Linked DNA regions of Homo sapiens: regions 1, 3, 4, 5, 6 and 7 are each linked to region 2. Evidence: fine-mapped expression QTL. A gene starts in region 2. Each other region holds a variant in brackets. All regions are shown on one strand. Distances are from middle to middle. Region 1 overlaps FEZ2 (fasciculation and elongation protein zeta 2). Region 2 holds the start of CRIM1 (cysteine rich transmembrane BMP regulator 1). Region 3 overlaps CRIM1 (cysteine rich transmembrane BMP regulator 1). Region 4 overlaps CRIM1 (cysteine rich transmembrane BMP regulator 1). Region 5 overlaps CRIM1 (cysteine rich transmembrane BMP regulator 1). Region 6 has its middle 89 kb from the start of CRIM1-DT. Region 7 has its middle 110 kb from the start of CRIM1-DT.

Region 1 (4,069 bases), 240 kb after region 2:
AACACTTCCATTATATTAGGTGCTAGGCACTGTTCTAAGCAATTTACATGTATTAACTCATGTAATCTTCAAAAACAACATTAGAAGGGGGAACCATTATTAACCTCATTTTACAGATGAAGAAACTGAAACACAGGGCGGGGAAGAAATGTTTCCAGGGTCACATGAATAATAAATACAACTGTGCATTACACTTATTTTTCTTCTGTAACTTCAAACAAACAGACCATTTCAAAAAGTGAAAAATCTCTCTCAAACAAAAGGTTTGTTATCCTTTCTGGAGAAAGAATTCGCTCTCAATGTGAGAACAGGATTTAATATCTAATTTGTAATAAAGAAGCTAAGCACTAAGGCAGATACAACAAAAAGGAGAAAGAGAGGGAGTTCACAATAAAACACACCCAGGCTCTATCCAATGCAGTTACCTGACCTTATTACCCAACAGCATTACAGGGAGGCAAGAGGGTCAAATGGTAAGGGCATTTGACTGAGACTAGGGAAACAAACTCTCATCTCCATCCTTCTTCAAATAACGAGTCATTGGCCAGGCCCCTTAACCTCCCTAGGTATCCTCTGCCCTTCTATAAATGAGAGACCTGGACAAGAAGCAGATACTCCTTCCAGCTCCATTACTCTAAGCATTAATTCAAATGAGGTGTATTGAAGAGAGTCCCAAACCACACCAGATAAGAACACCAAACTCAAATTTCACAACCAAAATTCAGGTTTCAATACCAAAGTAATAATCAGCACAATAAAACATGATGTTTTATGAAAAACTAAAGTTCAGAGATACAAGTGACTTGAAATCTAATTGGGATACGTAAAATCAAACACTAAACATACAAGCTACTTACTAGCTAGAGGTATACACAAAGATGTCATGTAGAAAAAAACACCCTAAAATGTTTATTAGGTATCTAATTGTGAATAAGCAATAGGCTTTCTTTCCAAGTGTGTAAGACACTAGGATACAAAAACAATCCTGGCTGGGGCATAAACATAAGAATGAATTTTTTTTTTAAGTTCCGGGGTACATGGGCAGGATGTGCAGGTTTGTTACACAGGCAAACATGTGCCATGGTGATTTGCTGCACCTATCAACCCATCACCTAGGTATTAAGCCCAAGAATGAAAATTTTAAAATACAGACATAACATAGTTAACAAATAGGGATTGGGCGCTAAAAAGAAGCAATAGGACTGCAACGGCTAAAAGCATAACATCCCAAATGATGTTTGGCTTTAAAATGCACGTTAGGGATGGGCCTGGTGGCTCATGCCTGTAATCCCAGCATTTTGGGAAGCCAAAGTGGGAGGATTGCTTGAAGCCAGGAGTTCAAGACCAGCCTGGGCAACAAAAGGGAGCCCCACATCTCTACAAAAAAAAAAAAAAAAAAAAAATTGGCCAGGCCTGTGGCATGTGCCGCAGTCCCAGCTACTTTTGGAGGGTAAGGCAGGAGGACTGCTTAAGCCCAGGAGCTCAAGGCTGTAGTGAGCTATGATGGCACCACTGTACTCCAGCCTGGGAGACAGAGCAAGACCCTGTCTCTAAAAATATATAAATAAAATAAAAAATAAAATTAGCCTTAATAAAAATGTGAACCCAAAAATCTCTAGAGAACTAACTCATCTACCCAGCAAAGCTCCCATATGCACAGTCCATTCCTATTCTCCTCTCTGTTGGAATATCTCCTCTAATGCCAGTGAAGTAGAATTAGAGGCAATGTCTGTGGACTACTAAATTTGCTGGGTTTCTGTGGACTACTAAACTTGCTGGGTTTCTGGCTCATACCTTCCTGGATAAGAAATTTTCAAACACTGAATGACTGTATAGTCCATTTTCATGCAGCTGATAAAGACATACCCAAGACTGGGACGAAAAAGAGGTTTAATTGGACTTACAGTTCCACATGGCTGAGGAGGCCTCAGAATCATGGTGGGAGACAAAAGGCACTTCTTACATGGTGGCAGCAAGAGAAAA[G/T]GAGGAAGATGCAAAAGCAGAAACCCCTGATAAACTCATGGACAGCGGCCCTCTTCTCACAACCCCACTAGGCAGTGCCCCAGTAGGGACTCTGTGTGGGGGCTCCAACCCCACATTTCCCTTCCACACTGCCCTAGCAGAGGTTCTCCATGAGGGCCCTGCCCCTGCAACAAACTTTTGCCTGGGCATCCAGGCATTTCCATACATCTTCTGAATCTAGAAGGAGGTTCCCAAACCTCAATTCTTGACTTCTGTGCACCTGTGGGCTCAACACCACATGGAAGCTGCCAAGGCTTGGGGCTTGCACCCTCTGAAGCCACAGCCTGAGCTGTACTCTCGCCCCTTTCAGCCACAGCTGGAGCAGCTGGTACACAGGGCACCAAGTCCCTAGGCCGCATACAGCAGGCAGACCCTAGGCCCAGCTCACGAAACCACTTGTTCCTTTTTGGGCCTCCAGGCCTGTGATGGGAGGAGCTGCCATGAAGGTCTCTGACATGGCCTGGAGACATTTTCCCCATGGTCGTGGGGATTAACATTAGGGTCCTTGCTACTTACGCAAATTTCTGCAGCTAGCTTGAATTTCTCCCCAGAAAATGGGTTTTTTTTTTTTCTATCGCATAGTCAGGCTGCAAATTTTCCAAACTTTTATGCTCTGCTTCCCTTATAAAACTGAATACGTTTAATAGCACCCAAGTTACCTCCTGAATGCTTTACTGCTTAGAAATTTTTTCTGCCAGATACCCTAACTCATCTCCCTCAAGTTCAAAGTTCCACAAATCTCTAGGGCAGGGGCAAAATGCCACCAGTTCTCTTTGCCAAAACATAACAAGGGTCATCTTTGCTCCAGTTCCCAACAACTTCCTCATCTCCATCTGAGACCACCTCAGCCTGGATTTTATTGTCCATATTGCTGTCAGCATTTTGGGAAAGCCATTCAACAAGTCTCTAGGAAGTTCCAAACTTTCCCACATTTTCCTGTCTTCTGAGCCCTTCAAACTATTCCAATCTCTACCTGTTCCCCAGTTCCAAAGTCATTTCCACATTTTCAGGTATCTTTTCAGCAACGCCCCACTCTACTGGTACTAACTTACTATATTAGGTTATTTTCATGCAGCTGATAAAGACATACCCGAGACTGGGAAGAAAACGAGGTTTAATTGGACTTACAGTTCCACATGGCTGGGGAGGCCTCAGAATCATGGCAGGAGGCAAAAGGCACTTCTTACATGGCGGCAGCAAGGGAAAATGAGGAAGGAGCAAAAGCGGAAACCCCTGATAAGCCCATCAGATCTTGTAAGACTTATTCACTATCATGAGAATAGCATAGGAAAGACCAGCCCCCATGATTCAATTACCTCCCCCTGGATCCCTCCCACAACACGTGGGAATTCTGGGAGATACAATTCAAGTTGAGATTTGGGTGGGGACACAGCCAAACCGTATCACTGACTATAGACCTAATCCTGGCAGGAATTTAAGCAGGATACACTAGCAGGTGAAGACAGTCCAGAATTTGAGGAGTTTGCTTTGTCTGCTGATTTGCTCCTTCTTAAACAAGGCTATAAGAAAAAGGCAAATGGGATGGAATATTTCACTTAGAAGTGCCTGTCAGTGAGTTTGATCTTCCAAGAAAATGAAAGCCAACTAACAGTCTCCACCAAGGTCAAAACAATGGTAGTTGGAAGGACACAGAGGCAACTCTAGTGAAAGATTTCTAGAATTCTGCAGTCAAGACATATGAACTGCCTTCATCTTTATCACCAAGTATTACAACCAGTCGTAAACAACGGTCAGGACAGCTCTTTTGCAAGGAGGTCAAAGTCCTGCCAACATCGAATCCTGCAGAATACTCTTATAAGTAAAACCTCAGTACGTAAATACAATCCATATTTAACCAAAACAAAAGCTGAGGCTCAGAGAAGTTAAATGAAGTGCCAAGGGTCGGGGAGGGCTTTGGGGTGATTCAAGCACATTACATTTACGGTGTACTTTATTTCTATTATTACACTGTCATATATCATGAAATAATTTTACAACTCACCATAACGTAGAATCAATGGGAGCCCTGAGCTTGTTTTCCTGCAAC
Region 2 (4,069 bases):
CCACTTAACACTTATTATGGACCCACAGGGTATGAGGGCCTTTGGAGATCATCTAATCGGACTTCCCACCCAACTACAGGAATCATTTCATTGCAACAACTCTTTAAACCCGTCTAGAAAATGCAATGCTCTCTCCCCTTTTCCACGGTTGAACATCTTCCTCATGGCCCTATAATAATCAATGATAATTAATGAGCCTCTTCCTCTCCTTGGACAAAGAAATATGATAGGAGAAATGTTTAGTTTGCTGATGCCCATCATGGGGGAATAGTCCACTGGTAACTCTGGCTTTTGGGTTCAGGATTAGACAGAGTGGTTAAACTAAAATATTTATCGTAAGTATGAATTTGTTCCACAAACATAACATTTCAAAGGTAGCTTTGTTTCCTCTTTCCTTGCACTGCCAGCTATTAACTTTCGGTTCATTAGTCACGATTTTCAGAATCCACTTGGCTGCCACCTTCCTGCAGCCAGACCATCTTGGATCAGAGGGTGGGCCAGCCATTCCCACGTCACACCTGCCACGGGATCGATTTTTTCCCCCATTGACCACAGTCACTTTTTGTCAATTAATTAATGTTATTCACCTGGTACCCATCTTGTGAATGGTAGGTCACTACGGAGCGGATTACTACTTCATATCCCATCAATGACAGAGCCATCATTACGAAAACCTTTTCTGACAACCACTGAAGAGAAACCATCTCCACACCGTGCATTTTGCATCACTTCCGTTGCTTCTTTACCTGATTTATCACAAAGACTATGTACCACACATCTTCTTTATTAATGCATTGACAATCAGTGAAGACAATGAAAACCCACCACTTTTGTCCGTGAACTGAGAAAGAAAATGGCAATGTCATATGGCATTAATGATGCATGAGATCTATGGGTGTAGTGTCACGTCTAGGCGTGTAGTAATCCAGTCTTCGGCCTTACTCCAGGGAGAAAGATTCAGCTTTGTTACTTTCCAGTCACTCTCTCCCGTAACACAGCACCTTGGCACAGAAAGCAGAGCGACAAAACCCAGAATGAGGACAGTTAAAATTCAACTCAAGCTACAGCCATCCCAACGGTCCTCCCCAGCTCCCGCGGAATATTTACCAAGACCGTTTAAAGCACTTAATTAATTCACTTCAGCTTCGCTGGAGAGGTCTCAGGGTTCCCGAGACTCCATTACATAATATCTTTCACAAAGTCTATTCCCAGCTCGAATGGAAGATGGATTCTCATCCAGTGTGCGGAGGTTCCATGCCTTTGCTTCCCTTTCCCGGAGTTCGATCCGGCGATACCCTCCCGAGGCTGCAGCCATCGCCCCGGCCCCGAGCTTCTGGGGTACCCGCCACTCTTCGAACTCCAATCTGGCCCCGAAGGTGCAGCCGCCTCGCCCTCCTGGCTCCCAGGCCGGCCGCTGCGGCCACGGTGCCAGCGAGCGCCCGGGACACCGCGACTCTCGCTGCTCGCTGGGTGCGCCCCAAGCCCATCCGCAGCGCACCCGCGGCGCCGGGGCCAGAGCCGCAGCTCGGTGGCACGGCCGGCTCGGTGCGCCGGGCTCGGGGAGGAGGAGATCGGGAAGAGGTGGAGGCGTGTGAGGGAGGGAGGAAGGGCCCGGCCGCCCGAGAGGGGGAGGGGGAGGCGGAGGGGGCCGGCCGGGCCGGGGAGGGGGGGCAGCCAATGAGCGGCGCGCGGCGCGTGGGGGTGGGGGGAAGGTCTGGGGGAGGAGGTAGGATGGGGGAGGGCGCAGCCCGAGCGGCTGAGGCTCCAGCCATAAACAAGCGCCCGGAGGAGCGGCGCAGGAGTGAGGCGAGCGGGGCGCGCGGAGCGGACGCCGCGGATCTTGTGCTGCGCCACCGCGCCCACTCGGCAGCTCGGGAGGCGGGGACCGGCCCGGAGGCTGCGCCGCTGCGGGGCCGGCCGACTCGGAGGAGGAGAGGGAGGAGGCGCCGCCGGCCCGGGCTGGAGCCGAGCGCAGCAGCCACCGCCGCCGCCGCGCCAGAAGTTTGGGTTGAACCGGAGCTGCCGGGAGGAAACTTTTTTCTTTTTTCCCCCTCCCTCCCGGGAGGAGGAGGAGGAGGAGGAGGGGAAGCTGCCGCCGGCGCCAAGGCTCGTGGGCTCGGGGTCGGCGCGGCCCGCAGAAGGGGCGGGGGCCTCGCCCCGCGAGGGGAGGCGCGCCCCGGGGGCCCCGAGAGGGGCGGTGAGGACCGCGGGCTGCTGGTGCGGCGGCGGCGGCGCGTGTGCCCCGCGCAGGGGAGGGCGCCCGCCCCGCTCCCGGCCCGGCTGCGAGGAGGAGGCGGCGGCGGCGCAGGAGGATGTACTTGGTGGCGGGGGACAGGGGGTTGGCCGGCTGCGGGCACCTCCTGGTCTCGCTGCTGGGGCTGCTGCTGCTGCTGGCGCGCTCCGGCACCCGGGCGCTGGTCTGCCTGCCCTGTGACGAGTCCAAGTGCGAGGAGCCCAGGAACTGCCCGGGGAGCATCGTGCAGGGCGTCTGCGGCTGCTGCTACACGTGCGCCAGCCAGAGGAACGAGAGCTGCGGCGGCACCTTCGGGATTTACGGAACCTGCGACCGGGGGCTGCGTTGTGTCATCCGCCCCCCGCTCAATGGCGACTCCCTCACCGAGTACGAAGCGGGCGTTTGCGAAGGTACGGCCGCCCGCTGCGGGCCCCCTCCCACCTGGCCTGCGCCGCCCCCTCGGCGCTGGTTGTGCCGAACAAAGTTTGGGCGAGACTTTCTGGAGGAAAGAGGGCTCTGCGGGAAGAGGGGCGGCCGCCGCCCCCAGGAGAGTGCCCCCGCGGCCCTGCGTTCCCTCTCCTTGTTCCCCCCGACGCTTAGGCAGTCGCGGGCGAGGTTGGGTATGGTGGGTGGGGGCGAGCGAGTGGAGGATCGCCCCTGTCCCCGCGCAGACGCGCACACGTGTGGCCGTTCCTGCTGGGACTGGGTGGCCCGGCCTTGCTCCCCGAGGTGGGGGCGCCGCGGGCGGGGGGCACTGCAGATTCTGCCGCGCGCGAGCCCCTCGGGGAGCCCGGCCCTACCGCCCTCCCCGCACTGGCGCAGTGTGGCACCGTGAGCCGCACGCCGGCCGCGAAAGTCCTTTTTCTGTTGGCGGAGGAGACGTGTCTCCAGCTCGCACTCCCCGAGTGACTCTTATTATTTTTTCCTTGAGCTCTTCCTTCACCCCTTCCTCCTCCTCCGCAGATAAATCAGTTTCAGCCGCGGAATATGTCAGCCCAGGGGAAGTTACACACGGTGGTTACTCATTTATTTGCCCATTGTAAACGGTCAAAGGCTTTCTCTCCTGAAAGGAAAGGGGGGTGGGGGTTGCACCTGGGAGTAAAAAGTTGTTGCTATTAGTGGCTGCTTTTTAATATCAGATACCCGCGTGTTTCCTGTCGTGTTGCCGGTTCCTCCTTTTTGTTTGTTTGACAGCGGGGATTGTTCTGCTGGCTTCTCCAGCACGCATTGTGCTCCGCGGTGTCGAGATTGACGGTGGGAGAAACAGATTAGATTAGTGGAGTCTTTCTCGTTGGGGAGCCAATGTTAGTGCGTGTTGGCTTTAATCCCTGCCCGCTTGCGTCGGCCTTCAGGGTGCCTGGTCTGGTTTGGGGTCTAGAGCGAGGCAGTGAGTTATTTTGATGTGGCTAACGGGGGCACGGTTCGGTAAGCATCAGTTAAAAGTGGGATCCCTGCTCTGGCTGACGTTGGGCTGATGATGCTGTTCCGGGGGCATCCTGGCGAGTGAGCAGAGCGCACGCAGCAGCCTCGTTTCTGGGGAGGCGGCGAGGAGGGACAGGCGCCCTCTGCCCGGCGTGCCTTCCTCACTACTCACAGCCAGCACCGTCCAGGGAACGGTTTATTCCGAAGCATCTTTGTGTGTGTTTGTTTAGTATGCTGGGATACTGAAAAAGGAGGTGACAGCCTTAAGGATAACAATGGACCTATTAAAAGGCTTCAGTGCTGTGATTCTCTCTAAATACGCACAGACACACACATAGGTACTTATTTATACCTGAATAGTTTGGGGTTTGGACAGTTCAGGAAAATAGGGGAGGGTTTTCTGGTTTGGAAGCT
Region 3 (4,069 bases), 120 kb after region 2:
TTGCTGTGTGACTTTGAGTAAACTACCTAGGATTTCCTCACTTTTAAACTCAGGATAATAATACCTATGTCAGACCTTCATTATAGGGATTAAGTGAGGTGATACATATAGAGAGTATTTTGTTAAAGGCCAAACACTATTAAAATTATACGTGTTTATACCATGTACAGAGAAAAAGAATTTAAGAGAGAGCACTGGGGGAACAGAACATCACCACTTCAAAAAAGACCATAATAAAATTTTTGAAGCAGAACAAAACCTAATGTGGAGGCAGGATCATTCATTTGAGGTAGACAATGATTTAACCAAACAAATAGAATCACTTTAAAGCACATACCAGATATGTGAGTGTCATGGTCATAAAGTTTAGCTTTGTCTGGGATGGAAGGAAGTCAGTGTAGATTTTCCTAGGGGGAATTTCTGTTCCTTGGTGTAAACTGGATAACAGTGTGTTTTATTTTATTTTGTTTTGCTTCACTTTATTGTTTTCTGTTACATGAACTTACATTGAGTTGAGTAAATTTCCATCAACTTATAACCTCCTATTAGAAATTTTCTAGAGGCTGTTTGAAAAACATCAAAGGACACAACTAAAAAATGACTACAAATATGCCTTGTTTGTTTTAACTCTTTTCAGATACAAAGCCAGCCTGCGTATTTAACAATGTGGAATATTATGATGGAGACATGTTTCGAATGGACAACTGTCGGTTCTGTCGATGCCAAGGGGGCGTTGCCATCTGCTTCACCGCCCAGTGTGGTGAGATAAACTGCGAGAGGTACTACGTGCCCGAAGGAGAGTGCTGCCCAGTGTGTGAAGGTAAGAAAAGGTGCTAATTACAGATTAACAGGAGCATACATGGTATAGAGTTCTAAAATCAAAATCGTCCTAATTCAGTCTCATCCAAAAGTAAAGGAATATTGAAGTTCCTTTTTTAGCCTTTTTTAAGACACCATGGTCTGTCTTTTAGCATGTTAAAGCCAGGTAGAGTGTGTGGAAACACTTCCCTAAGGGAAGCTATGCCTGGGTGTAGACAATGGGTCACCTCTTTCCACAGGCAACGTGAGATGTCCCAGAGTTGTTTTCCGTTCCTCCCCTGCAGTTCTAGCAATTCCTCAGCAAGTCCTAGGGCAAAGCTTTATCTTCACCCTGGCATTAGAGCTCACCACCTCCTCACCTCAGATTGCTCAGTTAGGATAATGTGGGCCTCACCCTGACAGTCTCAGCCTGCCGGCCCAGAGAGGAACTAACTCTGCCACTGTCGTAATACCCAGGACCCTCCAGGGAGATCAGGGACCTGCTACTGCTTCTCTGAAAATATGTGGTGGTTCACATGGGGTCGTGGTATCAGGTCACCACCTGGTGACACCAACTCAAGGCCCAGCCAGGTGTCAGGTGTGACTCTCAGGAATCTGCTTTGTCTGGATTCCCCTTTTCTCTCCAAGAAGTAATATGTTCATGTTCCTTCAACAGGCTGCATCTTCCCATCACTGATGTTCATAAACAATAAGCATTTCAAAACAGTTGCTCTGAATATCACTCCCTGCAACCCACACATTTTACAGATTAGGATGTTGAAGTTCAGAAGAGAAAAGTCACTTGCCTGTAAAGTCACTTTACACTGCAGCCAGTAACAATAACCCCGTGCCTGACTGTGTCTATAGTGTTCTTCTGACAACACAACACTGTTTCCCCAGAAAGGAAGGTCTTGTGAGCCTTCCTGTCCTAACCAGGCCCCAGATCTTCAATCTGAAGTCGCATGTGTTAATCTTATGCCTGATCTCTGCACACAAAGTGGGAGGGCACAGTGTCATGCCACTTTCCATACTTCCTCATTTTCATAAAATTTTCTCCTTTTGATATTTGAGCAATATTTACAACATAATATTGAAGATCTGAAAATGTTTAAAGTATAAAAATTGCATTCCTAACATAGTTCATAACAGTGAGTTCTTTTCCCTACTAGAGGTTATTTTACCCAACATAGGAGAAAAGTAGTTTATTTTTTAGGTGATGTTGACAATTAAAAAGAATTACTTCAAATTTTTAACCTTTCTAATTGTTTTGTTCCCTACCTGCCCCCAGTCTGCAATAGTTCTGAAACTGTGCAGCAGTTGATGCTGTAAAAATGTAGATACGAACCTCTGTGTAGTCATCATACTGAGTTGTCTGGGCATGGATCCAGTTATGTCTCACTTCCTGGAATTCAGATCCAGGCTCAACGTAGAAAAATATGTATTCTAATACTTTTTACACAGGAATTTAAAAAATCTTCTCTTGCTCAGGTCCATTGGCCGCCTCCCTCTCTGGCAGACTGCCTTCCTAACGCTGTGATGGCATTATTTTAAATG[C/T]TGACCTTCTAACTGACTTTATTATAATGTCCCACTATGTCCTTAGAATAATGATGACCAAACTCTATGAACTGTCTGGATTCCTCTCTCAGCACAGCAGTAGTTGTTTGTTGAAGCCAGTTTTTTATGTATTTCTGAGAAAGAAAATTGAGTAATTTATCTGGTTGCTCTCAATAGAGGGATAAGAGAGGGTTTCATATGCAGTATTTATATACTTGTCAGTAACCTCAGAAACTTTTTTTTTTTTACAGTAGCTTTGGCTACTTCTGTCTCCCACCTGGGGCTGCAGCTTAGCTTCCCAACTTATGGGAGAAAAAATGGCCTAAGTTCACAGCGCTCCTCCAAGGCACAGTGACCCATGGTATGTCTAGACTAGCCTTGTCATGAACAAGTCCACAGCAAGACCACTGTTGCCCACATGGTCGTGCAGGTACATGAGATAGAGTTTTAGAAGTAACAATATCACTCTGACTTAGGGCATTGTTGCTTCCGCTTTACAGTTAGGGAAGTTGAGGTTTGATAAACATTTATGTCTACAACTGCGAAGACATTGTCAGAGCCTAAAATGGAGTCATGTTTTCTAATTACCAACCCACAGCTCTTGCCACAAAGCTTTCCAACTTTACAGAGTGATAACACCTGCACATTGGTTTTTAGACTACAGATCCTCTTCTCTGGGACTGCTGTGTCAGGATGAGTAGACATAAATTCAGTGTGACAGCTTCTTTTGCATGCACCCCCAGAGACTCCTCATGCAACCCTGCGCTTCTGTTGATCACAGTGGGAATAGAACTGCTGATGACTAGAACCCAGGGAAAAAATGTCTCTGGGTACTGACAGAGATAAGATTTAGAAGATGCTCAGTCTAACTCTGAACTCATGTTCTCATTTAGATCCAGTGTATCCTTTTAATAATCCCGCTGGCTGCTATGCCAATGGCCTGATCCTTGCCCACGGAGACCGGTGGCGGGAAGACGACTGCACATTCTGCCAGTGCGTCAACGGTGAACGCCACTGCGTTGCGACCGTCTGCGGACAGACCTGCACAAACCCTGTGAAAGTGCCTGGGGAGTGTTGCCCTGTGTGCGAAGGTAAATCTTGCAGATGCTAATGAGTCCCTGGTGAATGTCTTCTGTTGGAGAAGCTTCTACCAGCGTACGTTCTTGTTTGTTTATTTCCTTGGGCATAATGTCTGCTTCACGCTGTTACCAGTTGCCAACAAATTTATCAAACAGCTCAAACTGATGATTTGAGGAAAGGTTGCACATGTGAAATGAGAATAGTGTGGTCATTATTTTGCCATTGCAAATATGCGCGTCTGAATACTTTACAGTATAAGAATATGTACATTTTAATTAAGTTCACTTTGAACCTAATTAACACCCAAAGGTCAGCCTAACAAAATGAAATTGAAAATGAGACCGATGAGTCAATCTTAGCACCTTTGACTTGTGATGCTTCCATATGCCCAAGCGTCCTGGCAACTAGAAGAAAAGACTGGAACCATGAAAGCCAATTTCCACTGCCTAGTGCCGTCACCGAGTATCTGTTCTACTTCTCATATACCAATGGCTGTGGCTTTGCAATTCCTCTAGTGCTGTTATTTATGTCGTGGTTACCTGCATTTGCTATCTCTCTTCTTGTTCAGTGGAGGGAAGCCTGAGGCATCCTGGACTAGTTTTTCTGTCCCGACTCCTATTCCAGCTCATTTCCTCCA
Region 4 (4,069 bases), 120 kb after region 2:
ATAAAAACTGGAAGTAATCTTATGTTGGCCCTGACAGAATTTTCTCTAAGACAGTAACATGTGAAATCACCATTTAAAGGGGAGCCGTACCCAGCATCAGCTTGCTCCTCATGTAAAATTTTGGCCTAGAAAATTCAGACCTGCAGGCTGTTAATTTTCAAAAAAAAACACTAGTACAGAAAACATTAAGAACCCACTGTCTATATAGCAATTATGCTCATAATGTTTCTAAGGACGTAATGTCTTCTACTGATAGAATAATGGAGATATTCTGGCACTTTGAGAGCAATACTCCACTCAGTATGTGTTTATTGAGCACCCCTCGTGTTCCTGGGGCCTTGTTAAGCTAATTTTGTTAAAGAGTGATACACATTGTTGTAATCCTTTCTAAGGGTTGTTCTCTTCCCCTTTTCCTGAAATAGGATATGCTTGGTGTCCTCCAGCACACACACACACTTCCCCTCTTCTCCCTGTGGAATAAGCCAATTGAAACTAGCAAACATATTTTTAGTCTTATAGTATTTAATACCGAGCCATTAATTATGAGAGTATAGTTAGCAAGACCAGATATTTATTGAGGCTAGTCCACATTCACAACTTTAAGAACATGTCATCAGTATAATTAATAAAGGGAAAACTTAAGGATTTAAAAACACACAGAACTCAAGAACTCCTGAGTTTTGAAAACACTAGCCTGAATGAACAGATGGAGAGAACATCCTCCATGAATAGTCCTTCTCTTTTCACTTTGGTTTTAATTTGTTTTGGTGGAGGGATGGGACAAGCTGCATGTCGAAGCTGCAGAGAGTTATCTAGAAGATTTAGCTATGAAAAGTGATGAAGGTGGCTACACTAAACAACAGATATTCAGTGTAGAGGAAGCAGCCTTCTATGGAAAGAAGATGCCACCTGGGACTTTCATAACAAGAGAGAAGCAGTCAATGCCTGGCTTCAAAGAATAGGCTGATTCTTATTAGGGGCTAATGCAGCTGATAACTTTAAGCTAAACCCCACGGCTGTTAAGAATTATGCTAAATCTACTCTGCCTGTGCTTTATAAATGGAACAACAAAGCCTGGATGACAGCATGGTTTATTGATTATTTTAAGCCCACCATTGAGACCTACTACTCAGAAAAAGAGATTTCTTCCAAAATATTACTGCTCATTGACAATGCACCTGGTCTCCCAAGAGCTCTGATGGAGGTGTACAAGATTAGTGTTGTTTTCGTGCCTAACACAACATCCATTCTGCAGCCCATGGACCAAGGAGTCATTTCAACTTTCAAGTCTTGTTAATTAAGAAAAACATTTCATAAGATTAGCTGCTGTAGATAGTCATTCCTCTGATGGATCAGAACTAAATCAATTGAAAACCTTCTGCAAAGGATTCACTCACCATTCTAGATGCCATTAAGAACACAGGTGATTCAGGGGAAGGTGTCAGAATATTAACATGGAGTTTGGAAGAAGTTGATTCCAACCCTCATGAATGACTTTGAGGAGCTGAAGACCTCAGTGGAAGAAGTAACTGCAGATGTAGTAGAAGGAGCAAGAGAACTAGAATTAAATGTGGAACCTGCAGAATGTGACTGAATTGCTGCAATCTCATGATAAAACTGGAAAGGATGAGGAGTTTCTTCTTATCGATGAGCAAAGAAAGTAGTTTCTTGAGATAGAATCTACTCCTGGTGAGGATGCTGTGACAACATCTTCACCAGATAAAACGACAACCAGGGATTTAGACTATTACATAAATTTAGTTGATAAAGCAACAGCAGGGTTTTAGAGGATTGACTCCAGTTTTGAAACAAGTTCTACTGTAAGTAAAATGCTATCAAACAGCATCACATGCTACAAAGAAATCTTTCATGAAAGGAAGAGTTAGTCAATGTGGCAAACTTCATTATTGTGTTATTTAAAGAAATTGCCACAGCCACCCCAACCTTCAGCAACCACCATCCTTATCAGTCAGCAGCCATCAGCATCAAGGCAATACCCTCCACCAGCAGAAAGATTACTATTTACTGAAGGCTCAGATGATCGTTAGCAGTTTTTAGCAATAAAGTATTTTAAATTAAGGAATGTATATTGTTTTTTAGACATAATGCTATTGTATACTTAATAGACTATAGCAGGGGTGTCCAATCTTTTGGCTTCCCTGGGCCACATTGGAAGAAGAAGATTGTCTTGGGCCACATGTAAAATACACTAACACTAATGATAGCTGATTAGCTTAAACACACACACACACACACACACACACACACACACCATCTTACAATGTTTTAAGAAAGTTTGCATTCAAAGCCATCCTAGGCCTCATGTGGCCCGCAGGCTGCAGGTTAGACAAGTATGGACTACAGTACAGTGTAAAC[A/G]TAACTTTTAAATGCACTGGGAAGCCAAAAAGTTTGTGTGACTTGCTTGAGCTGGTCTGGAACTGAACCCACAATATCTTTGAGGTGTATCTATCACCATCCACCAATCAGTGTAGTTTGGTAGGCAGTAGCATGTACTAATAGTCTATATTACAAAATTCTCTTTTAGGAGTTCTGAAGTATATTCAAGAAGGAAGGGAAGATCCCAGAACTTAGAAACTTAAAGTTTAATTTTGCAGACGCAAAACACATACAAAAAATCACTAAAAAGGCACTTCTGTGCTTCATATTGAGAAGTACAAATTACACAGTAAATTATTTCTTCATAACACTTTTCCACATCCACTTAAATCATCCTTTTGTGGAGATTGTGGCAATCTCCACACTGTTCTGAGATTCACATCTACCCCTGATAGGTGAAGAAGTAATTGGTCATTGCTCCTCAAAAACCACAGGTAGCCTTTTTATCATATACTTTTCTTAAGAGCCTCTATAAATCTCTTTGAACATCAAACAGATTTCATTGTGTTGTGTGACTTTTTTCACCCTTAAAGATTGATTGTGTTTCCAGGCTGTGTTTTTAGGATTCTCCATCTTTCTCACTTCCACTCCCTTGATCCTTGTGCTTTTGCTAGTGAAACCTAAGTGCCACAGTTCTCTCGTCAGTCCCATCCCCTCCTGCTTAAGCTTCTGCACACCCTACCATAAAAACAAGTCCACTTGAAGCAGCTTTATTCATAACCAGAACCTGCCCTCCACACTTCCTCAGATCATGCACCAGGGTTGTGGCTTCACCCAGATGGTAGCTGTGGTTGATCAACTCAACCAAATAATTAGTATTGATTGGTTTATTTTTTTTAGTTTCCATGGATGTTCATTTTGTTAGAGTACAGTATTTTGCCTCGCTCTACAGCCTGCAAATTTAATGTATAAAAGTACTCCGTTTTCTATACTTTTTGGAACTTATAGTGTAGCTGCACAATTCCTTTCAATCCCAACTCAGATTAGTTTGTTAGCTAAAAGTATATAGAAGAATTCTGAGCCATGGTAAGATGATTCTTTTTTAACATTAATTTTCTGAAAAAATGTTGTATCCATGTAGCACTAAGGAAGGAGTTTAAACATTCACATGTAGTACGTGTGCACACATAAAATCACTGCCTCATTCATGTGACTTTAAGCAAATCACGTCATCTCTTTAAGTTTCATCTTCATTATCGAAAAAACTGGTACTAATAATACTCGTTCTGTCTTCTTAGCGGGGTTGTTATAAAATAAATATAAAGTAATTGTCCTTGAGTACAATGCAAATGCAAATATCCTCCAAATGCGGTGAAAGTATTTTAGACATGCAAGGGGACATATTAAATGATTTGGGGATGGACAGAAGAGCCCTTGAAAGATGGGGATATCATCATCCAGCTTTCACCGGCAGATTGAGCAGGGCTCATCACCTCAGGAGAACTTTCTTCAGCTTGGGAGTACTTTTTTTAAAAATAGCTTTAGGAGACACCATGCAATTTACCAACTTAAGTTGTGCAATTCTGTTGTTTTCAGTGTATGCTCAGAGTTCTGCAATCATCAACACAATCAGTTTCAGAACATTTTCATCAAGCCATCAGAAAACTCCTGAACTGATTGCAGTCACTGCCCATTTTCCCCCTAAGCTCTCAGATCTAGGCAACCACTAATC
Region 5 (4,064 bases), 97 kb after region 2:
CTATCATCACAGCTCCAAACTCTGTAACTCCAGGAAAGGAAATAAGATAAAAGGAAGGATGGTAGTCCCATTGTGTCTGAAAAATATGTCAAATATACAGCCCATGACCAGAGCGAAGGTCATCAATGTCGTTTGCTTTCACTATAACATCTAAATATTTGCACCAAGCTGCTTCAATTTGAAATTGTGCTCTCAAGAAAATTCATTTTGTTGGTGCTGTCTTGCATTATGATAATAGAATCTTAGCAGATTGCTAGCACACTGTTTCTTGTGAATAGATAGAGATGTTTAGAAGAAGTTTTCTGGGGTTCCAGAATTCACAGCCTGAAATTGACTCATACTGGATGAGGCCAGCCGAATGGAATCTTTGGCAGGTTATCCCTTCCCTTCAGAAGCACTTGAGTTAAATCCAATTAATCTAACCACATAGCTACAGTGAGTGAAAACAAGGTACAGATTTTAAAATGCTCCAATCGGTTAAAACAGTTAAATAATTACATACTCATCGAGGACCTCATGGAAGGCAGAACACTGGGCTTGGTGTGGGGTATAGTGGTGAATAAAATGTGGCACATGCTTTAAAGAGTCTTAACATCTTACAGATATGACCAATGCCAGTTTCAAAAAGGCTCCCAAGTTTTGGAAGGTAATAAGAAGGAAACACACAACATGCACACACACACACAGTCATCTGCCCTCAAGGAAAGAATCAATTAATAGACAGTCTTTCTACCAAACAATGAAAACCAAATTTAAGAAAAACCATACAGTAATATGCCAGCTTTAAATCCAAACTGAGAAATCAAGGACCTCAAAAAGCACATATACATATGGAACAACAGATGACAATTTTTTCTTATCCCTCCCTTCCCTCCTGAAAACTCAATAGGACAGGAGGGATTTTCTTATTCCTCTGTTCTGGAACATCTGTCTGCTTCTGAGAAATGGAACGAGCAGCAGGATCAAGAATCCTTTAGTGCTCTGTGTGCTCAAATGCTTATCCTTCCGTGGTAGAGCTTTCCAAAGTTTGTCAACTCTTATCTCCAGAGCTACAGCCCATAACTCTGCGGTTTGAAGCCTTTAGGAGGGTGTTGGGAGGTGGGAGGATCACGCAAGAGTCAGAGGCTGTCAACACAGTGCGCATCAACCCAACCTGACAAATATGTCAAAGCCAGAAACTTCCTGAGGGTGGCTTGGAACTGTCAGGGTCATGTTCAGAGCTCAGAAAGCACTTCTTTTTTTCTTCTTGGAGACAGTTTTAAGTTTTTTTAGGCCATCAAATAATATTTCCTGTAGATCCATGTGCTTTTTACCATTGTGCTAGGCAATTAAGTTGCTTATATCATGCCTACTCAAGCTAACCAGTTTTAACTATCCCTGCATATGCATTTTCAAAGGGACTTTATCTAATTAAGAGTGTTGTAATTCATTATCATGTCCATCTGTTCTAAGATAGTGTCTCAGAGAAGATGGCACTTAACAGTTTGGGTTTTTTTTTTTTAAGATTGATCTGTTAGTAGACAAATTTCCATAATTCAGTTCATTTTTGTTGTTGTCGTTCCCTTTAATTTGAATAATTTCTCCAGCTGCTTTTTGGGAGTAAATAAAATTAAGTTATATAATAAGTAAAATATGCATTAGCACAGCACAGATTTAAAACATTCCTGACTCCTGACATACTATTATGGTAGCATTCTCTCTGTTTTTAAACACATGCAGAAAAAAATTTGGAAGTGTATTTGAAGCTCATCTTTCTCAACTAAGAAAAGAACATCTATTCTGTTGCCCTCTGTCACAGTAATTTTTGGCCCAAAAGAGCGAGTCAACTCATGACTAAAAAAGCCAGAGTCTATATTAAACTCTGATGTTTTTAAAACAAAATAATTGTAGGAATTCCATGTTATTATTGGACCTATCCCCAGATTGAAGAAAATATGCTTTCCTAGAAGTAAAGCCATTGCCCATTGGAAATGAACTGTCTCCCTAGTAGAGTGTTTGATTTGTCAATAATTCTCTTCAGATGCGTGCGTGCTGTGTTTCCTGTACTAGGGCCTTAGG[C/CT]TTTTTTTATCTCACCTTAAATTTGACCTAGTGTCTAGCCTTATTTTGTATTTGTCTTAGTCCCGAAAACAAGCAGGGAAGGCTCTCAGTCAGTGGCTTCCAGTTTAATCCGAGTGGTCATGGATATCACCAGACACTGTATATGTGGCCCTCCGAGTCGGACTGAGAGAAGGTAACTTAACTGAATTCCGTAAGCCTTTCAGTAAAGTTGAAAGCGGAATCCACAGCGTGATAATATTGAAACTCAGAGGTCTCTCCATACCCTCTTTTGCTATGTCATCATCATGGCACATGCAAACAGAACAGCTCTGCAAAAATGCTTTGTGAAATTACTTGCATAGCTAATAAGCAAGTCTAAAATGTAAAAGCCCTACCTGTAATGAAAATACCAAAAGCAACCCAAATCACGGAATATATTTTACTCTTCATGTACACCTTTACATTGGATATGGCTTATTGGGTTCCCCATCATTGTAGTTGCAACAGTTTGCAGATAATTCAGGGTTATATTTGGTAGACATTTAATTGCTAATTAGAACCCAGGAGGTAGAGACAGCTGGTTTCTCTTGGCCTTGGTCAGTCTGTTGTGAATGTATTATACAGCAAGTGGTTTGTAAATTATTCTTTCCTGACTTTGCTTTTGATTGAAAAGAAAGGAAGTTATATGTCATGGCTCTTATGATAATATGATCAGGGACTTTGATTTCCATAGCTAGATCATGAAGAGTTTTAATGATAATTCCTAAGACATTAGATTGTGGATTCTTTGAGGGCAAGGACCCACCCTATATATTTCATTCTCATCAGTACCTAGCACGGGTAAGTAATGAATGCTTTTAACTAAATTAGATAGACAATTAGTCTGCAGCAAAAGTCCTAGCATCAAAACCCCATAGTGTTCTTGGATTGTTCAGGGAGCAGATATTTTGAGCATTTGTCATGTGCCAGGCATTGGGCTACCCAGCAGGAATAAAATATAGTCGCTGATGTCTAAGAGCATATATTATAAAGGGAAGGCAAATATGTATAAGTCATTGTAGTTTAAAGTGTTGTGTGCTTTGGTAGTAGAAGTGTGCAAAAAACACAAAGTTAGCAAAGCAAACACATGCTAATTCCTATTTGGAGAACGGTCAGATTTGACTTTTGAACTGAGTCTTTAAGAATGAGTCAGAGTTCACAAGATGGAGAAAGAGAGAAGGGCATTCTAGGCTGTTGTTGATTTTTCGACTTGTAATGTGTCTTGCAGCTTAAAACATTAACACTAATCCCACCTACCTTTATGATTCAAGAAAAAGGGAATTCATGACAATGTTGGGTTTTCTTGAGATAACCACTCCATTGCAAGACTGCATTACTTGTTTAAGGTGTTTTGTTACTTTCCTGTTTCTTACAAGTGAAGACGCTTCTTAGTATGGTAGGCAAGGCCCCATATTACTCAGCCCTGACCTCCCTCTCTGGCCATGACTCCTGCCAGTACCCCCATAATAACCCCAGTCCTCCTCTCAGTACATAGTGTACTTCTGGTGGGCTAACCTATTAGTTTAAACTTAACACACTGTATTCTTTCTTGCCTTTGTAAATTTAGTGTGTTCTTTCCTCTATCTGGAATGCCTTCCCTCTGTGCCCACTCCCCCACATTTGATGGTCATTTCACAAACTGCCACTCACACCCCTCACCACCACCACACACAAACACACACACACACATACAGCATCAGCTGTTTATCTTTGTGCTGCTAGTTAGAGAAGGCATCATGGAAGAAGTGATCGTCAGGAATGAACCGAGGTCTCTGAGGCATGATGGGGGGCTTCAGGGTAGAAGATGCAGAGTAGCTCTGACTTTTCTCTAGCTGCTCTTAACAGCTTGAGTATCAGCACAGAGGAAGTCAAAGGGTTGAATCACAGTTTGCAGTTAGTAGTTCTTGGGGCTGAATTTTACCCCAAGACATGTTTTCTTTAATGTGCCCCTTTTTTTCTATTTTTAAATTAGTCACTGATATTTAAAA
Region 6 (4,069 bases), 89 kb before region 2:
TCAGAGGCAGAAGATAAGCCAGAAGACAAGTGTCATGGAAGTCAAGAAAATGAGATTTTTTTCAAGGAGAAAGAGGCCAACTTAGATGAATAGTAATGTGTAGACTTGTAAGATGAGAACTTAATGTAACCGGCCTTCAGCTCCCAGCAACTTAAAAGTTTCTGTTTGATTTGGCAACATAGAAATAATTAATGACTTACTGTCACCAATTTCAGTCAAATGCTAGAGATGAAGGTCATAATAAAGTGGGCTAAACACTGATTGAAAAGAAAAACTGAGAACAACCCAGTACCCATCAAAAGGAGAATACACTTGTAAATATGATCAATTCACCCTATGAAATGCTATGTAAAAGTAAAAATGAATTAATTACAGCCACATAGTGCAATGTAGAAAAATCTTGATAGTATGAGTAAAAAATTATGTCTAAGAAGGCTACATTGAAGCAAGTCTTCATGTAATTTCAAAAATAATTAATATTAAATATATATTTTACACATGAATAATTATTTGATAAAATAATTTTAAGGTAAAGGAAATAATAAACATAAAATGTCAAAACTTGTTCCCTTTGATGTCAGTTAGACAGAAGAATGTGTTTTTAAAATCTATTGCACAGCATGATGACTATAATTAACAATAATGTAATGTGTATTTCAAAATTCCTAAGAGAGCAGATTTTAAATGCTCACACACACAAAAAAAAGTATTTGAGAGATAGACATGTTAGTTATCCTGATTTAATCATTCCATAATGTATACACATATCAAAACATCACACTATACCTCATGAATGTATACAATTACTATTTGTCAATTAAAATAAAATAAAAAGGAAAAAAATACTTGGTCCCTCTGAGGGATGGGAATGTAGGGGAATCGTATAAACAAACAGCACATAGAGATAGGTGAACATGTGTTGTTTCATTCCACATGTGTTTATAATATCATTTCTATCACATGTATTTATTATATCATGTAAAAGTAAATACATGGGTTCTGTTTCTGGCATGACAGCCTAAGAAGCTCCATGGAGTCCCCCCTCCCTAATGCTAGAAAAATTGGTAAAAAAAAAAAAAAATTTATGGAAAAAGAGCAACCATTTAAAGTCTCTGGAAAGGATCCTAAGGGCATACATCAAATGAAGAAATATTTGTTCAATAAAATCTACTAAAATGTGGTAAGAACAGCAAGAGCCCGCGGTTATTTCAACCAAGACCTATTCTTCCCTTTCTTTCCGCCCTCTCCTCCCCCGAGCTCTGTGAGATGGAAACTTCTCTCCAGGCTGGGACAGCTGAGAACACAGAGTTTTCTCTCCTACCCAGCTCCCAGTCAGAGGGCTCTGTTCGCAGGAAAGGCAGGGTGTCAGCGTTTCTCATCATTTCCCCAGCTACCTGTTGTTCATTTGAAGTTCAAGGTGAGTATAGCCAAGAGGTGCATGCTCCCTTCTTCTGTCCAGTCCCTACTTATAGGAGAGAGGCTCTATATTGTGTTAGATGCCACTGAAAATACTGAGCCACTAATCACCCTTACCCTGGTTCAGAGGTAGAGTTCATACACAGGGAGAGGCAAACCAAGAAGACTTGAGACCTCTGTCTGCCTCCAATGAGTGCTCAGCTCCTAAAGTGAGAGTGTGACTCAAAGAGAAGCACACCATTGTCCCCCGACTCCAGAGATTTTACCTAAGGGGAGAGAGCAGGCAGAAAAACACATATCCCCTAGCCTCTTTCCCATCAACAAAAAAACTGTCTTCATTATCAAGAGAGTGTGGAAAAATTCAGGCCTAAAAGCACCCTAAGAAACAGTGGAAGTTGTGGTGAAAGGCAACTGGGAGGAGACTGGCAGACGCATTGTACATACAGGCTACGCTGTCAGCTAGCTAGTTTGCCTAAGAGAACCAAGGAAAGAGACAGCTGGGAGGAGCCCTCTTGTGACAAACAATAACAACAACA[G/A]CAACAACCTTCAAACATTGAATTCAGAAACTATCCCTTTAAAGGTGATCAAATTTGATTGGGTAAGTCTGTGACACAGTTTATACCCAGGGCATTGTTGAAAACATGAATCAACTACCAAAATTACTGTCATCCCAGAGTGGCTATGACCACACCCAAGCCTGAAGAGCAACATGAAAGGCTTTGGACTGCATGGGAAGAATAGATGCCACTATAGTAATACAGTCAGTCAGTTAAATTTAAAAAAAAGAAACAAAAGAACAATAACAAGCCCCATAAGGGGGTGACCAGTGCTGAGTTGCTATATTATATAAAATGTCCAGATTCAGCAAAAAAAAAAAAATATGAGACATGCAAAGAAACAGGAAAACGTGACCTACACACTGGGAAAAAATCAGGCAAAAGAAACTGCCTGTTGAGAGGAACCAGATGTTAAGTTTAACAGATAAAGTCTTAAAAGAAGCCATTGTGAATAACTTCAAAGAACTAAAAGAAACCACAATTAAACAAGTAAAGAAATGTGTAATCACAAGGTCACATCAAATAAAGAATGTCAATAAAGATGTAACAATTACTAGGAAGGAGGAGGAAGAGGAAGAGGGGAGGGGGGAAGTCAGAATCCTGGAGTTGAAAAACACAACTGAAATGAAAAATTTATGAGAGAGGCTCAATAGTATATTTGAACTGGCGGAAGAAAGAATTAGAAACCTTGAAGATAGATTGATAAAAATTATGCAATTCAAGGAAAAAAGAAGAAATGAAAACAGCTTCAGAAAAGTATGAGATATTAAGTCATCAACACATACATAATGGGAGTACTAGAAGGATTACTACTAAACTATAGTAATCAAGATAAAATGGTGTTGATATAAGAATAAGCAATGGAATTTAGAGTCCAGAAATAAATCCTCACATTTATTGATTTTTTTTCACAAGGCTACCAAGACAATTCACTGGGCAAAAGAACAGTTTTTTCAACAAATGGTGCTGACACAACTGGATAGCAACATGGAAAATAATAAGTTAGACCCCTAACTCATACCATATATAAAAATTAACTCAAATTAGATCAAAGACCTAATTACAGGAGCTAAACTGTAAAACTCTTAGAAGACATAAAAGTAAATCTTTATGACCTCAGGTTTCACAATAGACTCCTAGGTATAACAGCAAAACCTAAATAGCAAATGAAAAATAGATAATTTGCACCTCATTAAGATTTAAAACATTTGTGCTTCGAAGAACACTATCAACAAAGTGAAAAAACAACCCACAGAATAGAAGAAAATCACTGATCACAAATCACCATAAAATACATGATAATAATGAAATTGAAATATTGCAAGAATTACCAAAATGTGATACAGGGACATGAAGTGAGTGCACGCTGTTAGAAAAATTGTGCCAATAGACTTGCTCAATGCAGGGTTGCTACAAACCTTCAATTAAAAAAATAAAAAGCAGTATCTGTGAAGCTCAATAAAGCAAAAATGAGGTATGTCTATATTTGCTTACTGTTCCAACCTTTAAAAGTATTAACTTATTTAATCCTCAAAACAATCCTATGAGGTAGGTATAATTAATTTCCCAATTTTTCAGATAAGAAAAAATGAGGCTTACATTAAATAAACTGCCTAACATCACAAAACTAATATTTGGAGGAGCCACCTCCCAAACAAAGGCAAAAGATGCAAATAAATCATTTAACCTAATCTTAGTATTATTACCTTAAATCATAGACTTATTTATAATAGTCTGTTAATCTGTTTTTTATTTCGAATAATATTCTAAATGAATACTTCATGTGTAATTATTTGTTGTTTTTGTACTTGTAATTCTCAATTAGAAAGTTATTTTACTAGATAAAGCAAAACTTGAATGGTGTACATCTATCTCTCTGACCATTTAGACTATAAAGCAATAGTCCACATATCACCCTCCTCAGGTTGATTAAAATGTGTATTTGTGTATGTTTAAATGTATTCATAAATACTTCTCTTATTCTACAAAGATTTAAAATGACTTCCGGGAAAGAAAATAAAAAATATCAATATATGAGTTAAAAATGTCAAGACAAAAAAATCTAAATTAGATTAAAAGATCAAGCCTCCAGATAG
Region 7 (4,069 bases), 110 kb before region 2:
GCTAGAACTAGTGGCTTCTACAAACTAAATGTTAGTATTTTGTTTCCATATCATAGGCCTAATTGTAATATACTAACTAAAATATAAGAATGTATTTTTATTCTTCCCTGCTTTTGAACAGAAAATAACCAAACTATCAGTTCTATCTAATTAACAATGCCATGCTAATTTCACAACAGTATTTCCAAAATGACACACAAGGTGAATATGCTTCCGGAAAACATTAAAGATAATTCACTTGCAATACACTTGCAAAGATGAGACTCCAGGAATGAGTAATAACAAATGCAGATCCAAGTGCATTTGGAGGATCAGGAATGGATTGAACAGCACCTCCATTCTCCCCAGGTAGGACAGAGTTGATGGGTAAAATTAAGTAAGTTAGAATGTTCTGATGCATTCCTGAAGTATAAGCAGCCTTCTCCAGCCACCTCTAGCTCATTCTCCTCTAGTACATTCTTTCTCTTCCCAGTCAGGGACCCTGAAGCTGGTGTTCTTACAGGAAGCGCAGTCTTATCAATAATTCCCACACATGGCTGGGCACCAAAACCACCAGGATTAGTTGCTAAAAACACAGGATCTTGGGACCGCCCTGGTCGTTTTGAATCAGAAACCTGAAGAAAGATATAGTTAATCTATATTACCTAGCTAATTCCTAAGCAACCAGCCTGGTTCCAAACCCAAATCAAGCACTTGGGAGCTTCTGCCTGCATATAATGTTTAGGTTCCCTTCCTCAGATTGTGTGGCTATTGGCAGGAGAGTAAGGAAATCAAAAGGATTTCAGTAAGCCAATAGCAAAATTGGCAAAAAACAACACAATTCATACACACACACACAAACACACACATGCACACACTGTGCAAATGGCTGTTTAACACATGAAAAAATGATCCTCCTCATAACAAGACTAATACCTGTGAAAACCACACTGAGATACCATTTCTTACCTGTCAGACTGGCAAAAATTAAAAAGTATAACAATATATTCCGTTGCTGAGGCAGCAGGGGATACAAGAACTCTCACACATTTTTAGTCAGGATGCAAACTGATGTGATCTTAATGGAGGGGAATTCGGCAATGCCTAACAAAATTACATAGAGCGTTCCTTTGCATCTGAACCCAACAATCTCTCCTCTAGGAATTTACACGGAAGAAATACTTCCAACAATATCAAAATATGTATGCACATCTGTTTCCAATAATTGCAAAATCCTCACTCACCCTCTACCATTTTACCTGTGCCCTGTTCATGGCTAGAAAAACACATTTCAGTCAACAAGAGCACATCCATGTAGATAAGATCCTAGAGATACCTAAATTTGTGGTATGAGGAAAACTAAAGTTATACTTAAGAAATACGGCCCCCCAAAAAAACCGTACCTGACAGAGGCTGCACCAGTGCTTTCCAGAAACATTTTTCTCGTGTACAGAATTTTCTTTGGATGAGATACACCCTAGAAAATTAAATATGAAGAGAAGGAAGATTCCAGATCTTCTTCAGAGTCTCTCTGCACTCACTCTGAGAAGCCATCTTGGACTTCTAGATGTTGGCCTTCCCGCGTGATTCTGCCTCTGGCTCTGCCTTCCCTGCGGTTCTCTTTGGTTTTTTTGTTTGATTGTTTTTTTATTATACTTTAAGTTCTAGGGTGCATGTGCACAACGTGCAGGTTTGTTATATTTGTATACATGCGCCATGTTGGTGTGCTGCACCCATTAACTCGTCATTTACATTAGGTATATCTCCTGCGGTGCTCTTTGATCTAGTGTCTCATTTACACATAATTTCATCAAGGGCATTAAAATTCCCTCGCCAGGCCCTGAGGAAGCTTCTCTTCACATACCCACCCAAGAGCCAAGCAACTGGCTTTGAATGTACTTGTTAATTAAAAAAAAAAAAAAAATACGTTACAAAATTAAGGCAGAGGTTACTGTGTAACGACAACTATGGGAAGTAGAAAATGGTGGCACATAACAGCCTGCATCCCCACTACTCAGAATTAAGCTTTTTTTCCTATTTACTTTTATTTTATAATTTTTTGTAATTGATTTTAAAAAGTTTATGTACGGTGTACAATGTGATGCTTTGATATACGTATGCATTGTGGAGTGAGTAAATCAAGCTAATTAGC[G/A]TGTCCATCTCCTCACATACTTATTTTTAGTGGTGAAAACATTTAAAATCTACTCTCTCAGCAATTCATATATACATACATTGTTATTAACTAGCGTCAACATGCTGTTTAGTAGAGCTCCAGAACTTATTGATCCTGTGTAACTGCAACTTTTTATCCTTTAACCAAAATCTCCCCATTCCCACCCATCCTAGCCCTTTGTAAACCCCCATTATATTCTCTGCTTCTATTAGTTTGACTTTTTGGAATTTCATACAAGATCATGCCATAGTTGCCTTTGTTGTCACAAATGACAGGATTTCCTTTTTTAAGACTGAATAGTATTCCATTGTGTGCATATACCACCTTATCTTTATTCATTCATTCATTGATGGACACAGGTTAATTCCATATCTCAGCTAATATGAATAATGCTGCAATGAATATGGAAATGTAGATTTCCCTTTAAGACACTGATTTTGTTTCCTTTGAATATATGCCCAGAAGTGGAATTGATGGATCATATGGTAGTTCTATATTTAACTTTTTGAGGAAAATCCATACTCTTTTCCATAATGGCTGTACTAGGCTTTTATTTTTTATAGCATTTTTTTCAGGCATACTGTCTCAGCAGCTCTCACTCAGTAATTCATCATTAAATAGTTTTTTGAATTCAAATGTATAGAACTTTATTGCAATTTAAAGGTATATATATGTGTATATATATGTGTATATATGTGTATATATGTATATATGTGTATATGTGTATATATATGTATATATGTATATATATATGTGTGTGTGTGTATATATATATATATATATAGCTAAATTAACAAAAACGGTAAGTGGTCAAAAATTTAGTGCATCCTAATTAGTTTCATCCATTCCTCCAAAATTTAGGGCCTAAAATAATGCAGTAACTTCTGGAGTAGCAGCAATATGTATACTGGATTATGCTTTCTTACAAAAGTGATTTTTTAATAGGCACCAAGTAGAAAGAATCTGCATCATTTAAGAGTCCCCTGTGTGGAAGAATCTGTTCTATTTTATGTTTGTTGATTTGAAAGGGTATTTCAGAAAGAATGGGAAAATGAGCCCAGGAGATCAATATTCTGAACAATTAACCTATAAACAAATAAAAAACACAGTATATGGGCTACTTAATGTCACATCTCTATAGACAGACAACAATACATTTGTAAGCAAGCTTGACATGATGGATATAACTAGATTAGTGGCATACTTTGCCAAAACAAAAGCACATGTGCTTTCTTTCATTGTTCCATGTTGTGAGAGATGCTCTCTGCCTTTCCCTCTCTTTAATCCTCTCACCCTGATCTTCATCAATAATTTGGACATTTATATAATAGCTTTGCAAAAGAAAAAGCAGAGGCAAACTTACCCATTGTGAGGCTCAAGTTTAAGCCATTTTTTTAGGACTCCAAGGGAAATACCACACAAAAGACATAAGAAGCTATGGCTTGCCTAGTTTCCTGAAGATGATGTTGGATCTGTATATGCACTCACAGCTTACCATTTTGGTGACAAATCAATGGTTCCCAACTATGACTGTACATTAGAATCTACTCAGAGGTTTGTAAAAATACTCACTTCTCCCCCCACCTAGCCACCCAGCCAATTGACATGGAATCTCAAAAAGTTGGGCTCAACACCTTTAGTTCTTAAAAACTCCAGATTTTTAAAAAAATCTATCCCTGAGGCACAGGGATAGTTGAGATCAACTTCATTAAATAAAGAAATCTCCTTTTTGTTCCAGTCCACAAACTGTATCAATAAGCCCAAAACTTTATAAGCCACCAATATTACCCTTTCTTGCCTGCTGGAAAAGTCTAAGTGGAATTGTTATTTAAGATACTTTGACTGGATCCCAGGAAGCATAGTTTCTGAAAGATATTCATTTATGCCAGAAATAAAAATTATCTTTAAAACCAGAAT

Evidence for each region. PIP is the estimated chance that this variant, and not a neighbour inherited with it, causes the effect.
Region 1: its variant is fine-mapped to the expression of CRIM1 in whole blood (INTERVAL, PIP 0.98).
Region 3: its variant is fine-mapped to the expression of CRIM1 in whole blood (INTERVAL, PIP above 0.99).
Region 4: its variant is fine-mapped to the expression of CRIM1 in monocytes (TOPMed, PIP above 0.99). The same link has a PIP of 0.9 or more in monocytes after Pam3CSK4.
Region 5: its variant is fine-mapped to the expression of CRIM1 in whole blood (TOPMed, PIP 0.97).
Region 6: its variant is fine-mapped to the expression of CRIM1 in blood mononuclear cells (TOPMed, PIP 0.90).
Region 7: its variant is fine-mapped to the expression of CRIM1 in whole blood (INTERVAL, PIP 0.94).

The regions. Positions count from the first base shown.
Region 1 is chr2:36,591,264-36,595,332 of GRCh38, forward strand. All of the region lies in intron 1 of FEZ2 (fasciculation and elongation protein zeta 2), which reads right to left. Among named protein-coding and RNA genes, the nearest start is that of FEZ2, 4.9 kb to the right of the region's middle. The variant G/T (reference allele first, on the strand shown) is at 1,984.
Region 2 is chr2:36,353,981-36,358,049 of GRCh38, forward strand. It overlaps CRIM1 (cysteine rich transmembrane BMP regulator 1), which reads left to right and starts at 1,798. Exons shown (of 17, transcript NM_016441.3): 1 at 1,798-2,643. The coding sequence starts at 2,313. CRIM1-DT (CRIM1 divergent transcript) reads right to left here and starts at 1,590. Exons shown (of 2, transcript NR_037631.1): 1 at 1,108-1,590; 2 at 769-1,001.
Region 3 is chr2:36,476,252-36,480,320 of GRCh38, forward strand. It overlaps CRIM1 (cysteine rich transmembrane BMP regulator 1), which reads left to right. Exons shown (of 17, transcript NM_016441.3): 6 at 638-820; 7 at 3,246-3,443. Among named protein-coding and RNA genes, the nearest start is that of FEZ2, 120 kb to the right of the region's middle. RefSeq lists a silencer at 175-469. The variant C/T (reference allele first, on the strand shown) is at 2,353.
Region 4 is chr2:36,469,489-36,473,557 of GRCh38, forward strand. All of the region lies in intron 5 of CRIM1 (cysteine rich transmembrane BMP regulator 1), which reads left to right. Among named protein-coding and RNA genes, the nearest start is that of CRIM1, 120 kb to the left of the region's middle. The variant A/G (reference allele first, on the strand shown) is at 2,377.
Region 5 is chr2:36,450,628-36,454,691 of GRCh38, forward strand. All of the region lies in intron 4 of CRIM1 (cysteine rich transmembrane BMP regulator 1), which reads left to right. Among named protein-coding and RNA genes, the nearest start is that of CRIM1, 97 kb to the left of the region's middle. The variant C/CT (reference allele first, on the strand shown) is at 2,059.
Region 6 is chr2:36,264,851-36,268,919 of GRCh38, forward strand. No RefSeq gene overlaps it. Among named protein-coding and RNA genes, the nearest start is that of CRIM1-DT, 89 kb to the right of the region's middle. The variant G/A (reference allele first, on the strand shown) is at 1,953.
Region 7 is chr2:36,246,845-36,250,913 of GRCh38, forward strand. No RefSeq gene overlaps it. Among named protein-coding and RNA genes, the nearest start is that of CRIM1-DT, 110 kb to the right of the region's middle. The variant G/A (reference allele first, on the strand shown) is at 2,132.